Regions from separate parts of the Homo sapiens genome. Here region 2 is linked to region 1. The links come from fine-mapping of genetic effects on gene expression. Tissue or cell type: thyroid. Region 1 holds a variant in brackets; the other region holds the start of a gene. All regions are shown on one strand. Distances are between the middles of the regions.

Evidence for each region. PIP is the estimated chance that this variant, and not a neighbour inherited with it, causes the effect.
Region 2: it holds the start of SLC34A2, and the variant in region 1 is fine-mapped to the expression of SLC34A2 in thyroid (GTEx, PIP above 0.99). The same link has a PIP of 0.9 or more in lung.

What each region holds. Positions count from the first base shown.
Region 1 is chr4:25,445,500-25,448,256 of GRCh38, reverse strand. The region is part of intron 3 of LOC105374536 (a long non-coding RNA gene); the gene reads right to left. Among named protein-coding and RNA genes, the nearest start is that of ANAPC4, 70 kb to the right of the region's middle. The variant T/C (reference allele first, on the strand shown) is at 1,386.
Region 2 is chr4:25,654,293-25,657,049 of GRCh38, reverse strand. SLC34A2 (solute carrier family 34 member 2) reads right to left here and starts at 1,199. Exons shown (of 13, transcript NM_006424.3): 1 at 1,160-1,199. RefSeq lists an enhancer at 836-1,749.

The DNA.
Region 1 (2,757 bases):
ACTGAACAGTAAGTTTCCTACCCACCAGACTGGCCAAAAGTTACACATTTTGGCAACACTAAATGTCTGGTAAGCAGGCAGGGCCACAGGAACTGTTCCACAACACTAGTGAGAGTTTATGTTGGTATTGATCACTGTGGAGTCCAGTTTGGCAACATATAGTAAGGCTGGATATTTGCAGATCCCTTGACCTAGGAATTCCACTCCTAGATACACCCTCTAGACGCATTATAGCAAGAAGACAAGCAGACTGGTAGGAAAGTGTTAATTGAAGTAACAGCACAAACTTGCAACATCCTAAATGCCCACAGCATAAAAATGAATACATAACTGGTGGTGTATTAACCTGGTGGAATACTCTAGACTTCAGACTTGAACTGACTGAACTGCAGCTCTCTGTATGAAAACAGGCAAATCCCCAAAGCATAACATTGAACAACAAAAAGGGTAAGTTGGCCAGGCATGGTGGCTCACACCTGTAATCCCAGCACTTTGGGAGGCCAAGGTGGGCAGATCACCTGAGGTTGAGTTCGAGACCAGCCTGGCCAACATGGTGAAACCCTGTCTCTACTAAAAATACAAAAACAAATTATGTATGGCATGGTGGCAGGTGCCTGTAATCCCAGCTACCTGGGAGGCTGAGGCAGGAGAATCGCTTCAACCTGGGAGGCGGAGGTTGCAGTGAGCTGAGACCAGGCCATTGCACTCCAGCCTGGGCAACAAGAATGAAACTCCATCCCCCCCGCAAAAAAAGAAAGGGTTAGTTGCAGAAGGCTGTCTGTATAAGGACATAATCATTTGTAATTTATATGTATACATATTATATATTATTATATAATAACAGCTTTATATTATACATTAGGCATGAACTTTAAGAATACATACAGTAATATAGCTATTTATGGAGAGAGTATTTGTAGTAATAAAATAAAAACATGCCTGGAAATCATAGCCAAGTTCAGAGGGAGGGAAGAAAGAGAAAGAATTGGGGAGGGATACACAGGGGACTTCGACTGTGTCTATAACAGTTTCTACTTTTAGAAAATAAAATCTGAAGAAAATATGGCAAAGTGCTAAAATGTCCTAAACCTAGGTATCAGGTACATGGTGCTCACTACATTACTGGCTGAGCTTTTCTGCTTGCTAAAGTCATGCACCAATTTTCAAGGTCTCTAATATTTGATGAATTTCATGCCGGGACCCTTGGGCGCAATATTTTAAACCACCCTTTAATTAACGAACTTGGCTTGCTTGGCTGTAAACACTTTCCACCTACTCTCAAATCCTGCCCTGCCCATCTGTAGGAAACACTCTTGGGGCTCTCACCCCACTTCCCTGAAATCTTGGAGAGTCCCCTCGGTCCTCGCCCCACTTTTCTGGAATGT[T/C]GGAGAGTCCACTGTGGTTCCATTGAGTGTCTGTTTCCGTTTGTTTTAGGAGTCATCTGACACCCAGCCCACCCCAGGAACATTTTGCATACTTCTCCCTCACCCCTGGAGAGGTTTTGAGTGCTGTCACTGGACCAGAGAAAACATTGTTTTTCTCACCAGGTGACTCTTCTCAGTCACAGGTACCAGGAAGCCTGAGGACACTTGCCAGAATCAAAGGCTTTCCAGAAAGGTCATTGTTAGCAGGCCACGCCCAAAAGGGGAGACACTGTGTCCATCAGCTGGGGGTCTGCTGGGGCCCCTGCCTCATCTGCACCCTCAGGAGGTTTCTGGGGGCTGCTGCCTGCCTTTTTCAATAGCAAAAACCAACTCCAGCATTTTAAGAACTGTACAAGTGGGGGCAGAGAGCAATCATCCCTCCAAGTTATTTCTCCAAATCCACACTAAAAAAGCACTTAAGGAAATATCTAATAGCTTGGTCTTTGGTCCTGATCAGAAAAAACAAAATCATCTTTCATTTTTCTATATCAGAGGTCCCCCCCGCCCATGCCCACACGCATGCAGTTCTCCTCTGCCTCCTCCAACTCTTTCTAAACATGAAATGAGAACTCATTATCTCCATGTGGAATTCTGGGAAGAATCAATGGAAAGGTAGGACGGCAGGCAGGTGGCTGAGTCTGTCTTGGTCTTGCCACCTCTCAACACTGGACTCCACTCACCATTCCAGAGGGCACCTTTGCAAGGGTGTTCCCCCTCCTAGATTTCCACACTGAACACCAACAGGGGCTACTCTAAGTGCTGGCCCGATGGCAGCAAGTCAGGCAAAGAACTCTTTGCCCTGACAGTGCTTACCCTCTAGTGAGGAGAGAGATGATTTAATAAGCAAACAAATAATCACATCATATAATTGCAGGGAGAGACGCGTGCTAGGCAGAAAAGCAAAGTGGGAGAATGAGAGAAAGAGGGCCTGGGCAAGGAGGCTAATACCTCGTCTGTAGGATGAGGAGGCCTCTCTAATGAGGCAGTTTTGAGCACAGGGGACATCTCAGCACAGGGAGGTTAGGCATGTCTTAAGAAGAGGGACCTAAGAGGAGGCTATGGGAGGTGCAGGTGGCAATTCAGCCAGGGGCAGACTATGTCACACACCGTGCTGTGAGAGCGAGGCCATGGCTGCCATTTACAGAAGAAGAAACAGATGGTCTAGGTGGTTATCGGGTTCACCAAGACCACACTGCCAGTTTGTGCTAGCTGAGCCGGGTCATCTGACTCTGAGAGCTATGCTTTGAGTTACTCCCTGCCATCTCTCACTCCAGGACACATACAGGTCCATGTCCCTTACGCACAACCCAGCGCTGGCCGTGGGCTGGAATCC
Region 2 (2,757 bases), 210 kb before region 1:
GATCATGATCAGCGGGCATGGGACAAAAGAGGCAATCTTTTTTATTTTTGTTTTTCTTTAACAATCTGAAACAACGGCCACTCCTACAAGCACAGTTTTCCAAGAATACCCAACCCAGGACAAGTTAAAGAACTGCCAGCACACAAGGGAAGAAGGAAAAAGGAAAGAACGACAAGGCCCAGAGCGATCAGGGCTAACACAGAAACCCCCTGGGGCACCCAAACAGGAAGAGGGGACTCGAGTGATGAAATCCACAAGCTGCTTCCATGAAATCAACATGTTTGAAAAAGGGACCTCCTCAAAGAAAACGAGATTCCAACTCTCTTCAGCGCAGTGCGAGCCACCGGTGGCAGGCACCGTTGCAGGGAACCTGAACTAACTCCATGCCATGCAGCCCCCAACTTTCTGGCCTGAGGATGCGCAGTCCCCGAACCCAACCACTCCTGTGCACATCTCCTTGTAAGTTATCTCCCCAGCCTGCTCACCCATTTGTGGCTTGGAAAACATAAATTGCGGGCTTTGCTCCCCAAGACGGCTGAAGGACGGACCCTTCGCTGATGGCCACGGGCCCTAATAGAAACAAACTAAGACTGTCTCCTAGGCACCTTAAATAACTGCAAACAAGCACTGTACCACGTGGAAGTCACACTTGGGTGGGGGGCAGTGTCACATCACCAGGCAGCCACCACAAACCTAGAATTTTCATGGTCCTGAGATGTCGCATTCCCCTTCTTATAAAGAATGGAAGACGGCAGCCCAGGGGCTCACAGGGACTAGCGTTGTCACATGGCTAGTTGGTGACCCAGCCACAAAGAGCCTAGCTATCCTGATTCCTAGGTGGAGATTTCTATCCCCTGGGCCTTTCCTCTTCCAAACCACGACTCTCAAAACAGTGATCATTTTAGAATCCACAAGTGTGGCTGATTAATAACACTGTCGATCGTAAGAGTGTAGCAGCAAAAGCTGTAATAAAAGCAATAACCGTAACATTAAGAAGAAAACAACTTGAACATTGTGGAGAGCTTTGTGTTTTTCACTTCTGCGGCCCAAAGCCAGCCAAGTTCCTTGAAGTCAGCACCGAGAGGTATTTGCAAGAATTAAGTGAATCAAAGTCCTTGAAAGAGCGAGGAAGCGCCCCTGCCCCGGCGGCGGTACTCACCAGCGCTCCCTCCGCAGGTGCTGGGCTGGAGGCGGCGGCCAGGTGGAGCGCAGCGCCCCGGGTATATATGGCGAAGGTGTTGCGCAAAGAGGCTGGCCGCTGTCATCACGCCCCTCGCACATTCCAGGACCGCCTGCCGCAGCCGCCGCCGGGGCACTGCCTACCTGCCGCCTTAATGAACCCATCGCGACTTCGCCCGCTGCGCGGAGAAGACGCGCGGCCAGCCAGGCTGCCGAGAGAAAAGCTCCGACGGGCCCCGCCGCGCGAACTGGCCCGAACGGCCCCAAACGGCCCCGCGCCCCTCGGCGCCCCGCGCGCCCTAGCCTGGCTGGTGCGCGCCCTCTCCCGCCCCGACTCGGTCCGCACGAGATTCCCGCAAGTGGGGCTCTCCCGCCCCTGCCTTCTCCTCAAGAACTTGAACCTTCTAGTCTAGCTCCTGTGAGGCTCAAGAGGTCAGAGACGTGAAGACACAGATAAAAGCCAGTTGGAAAGTCAGGGATAAAGCCCTTGGAAACAAAGCCTGGATTGTTCACCTTTATCAGTCTGTGGGGCGCTTTCTGCCCTGGGAGTCTGGGCTCTAGGTCCGCAATGGGAAAGGCTGGGACCGTCAAGCTGAGGAAAAGGAAGGGGGCTGTTCTCACCACTCCGTCCTAAGCCTGCTGCGGGTTTGGCAAACCACTGCGCTCGTTTCACATCCTGCTCTGCCTCGTGTCACCTGCGTGTGTATACAACAGTTCTCCAAACTGCTGTGAGATAGGATCTGTCCCAGGGAGAGTCCACCCCCATGCTTATCCCAACAGCTCCCCAGTTCTGTGCCGGGCACTGCTGGGCAGGCTTTGTCTCCAATGTGCACACGAAAGCCTTCCCTGGGGCTAAGACTGGCGCCCTCTCTAGCTGAGGTTTAAGGGGTTAGGGGATATGATACAATTACCCAGGATTTGCTGAGCAGGAAGAAAACCTGCTTCTTATTCTGAAACCCAGACCCTCTCCTCTGCTGCGCACTCTCCTGGTTTTATAGTGGAGCACAGTGAGGCTCAGTGAGCTTACTAGTTGCCCAGCTCCTCACAACAGCGGAAGCACCCTACTGGAATTAGCTGGTTTCATTCCAACATCGAGTTCTCTCCACTGTGCAAGGGGAAGGACTCGGGAGCACGACTTCCAGGAGCCTAGAGCTCTGGGGCTGGTGTTGGCGGTGGCTAAGCACACTGACTCTGGGCCGAAACTCCGGGAAATCAGTTCCCTGTTCTGCCCCTTGCTTTCCCTGGCTCCATTTGCTTATGTGCAAACTGGGAATAATGGTCCCCGTTGGAGTAAAGTGAGCTAAAATATGTAAAGAATGTGGAATGGTACTTGGCACATAAATAGTATTCAGTGCGAGTTAACCATGATCGTTTTCACAGGGAAACTCTGGTGTTGGGAGAAGATGGGTGGGAAGCCTTGATTAGACTCATCTAGAACCTTCACTGGAGAAATCAAATCTGCTTGGGTTGCTGTTATTACAGGGATGATGGTTTTGCTAGTGGGTGTTGGCCTTCAGATCCAACTCTCAGACAATGATCAACCAGTACCTTTGCAACAAGCAGCTTCTAAAGCATAGT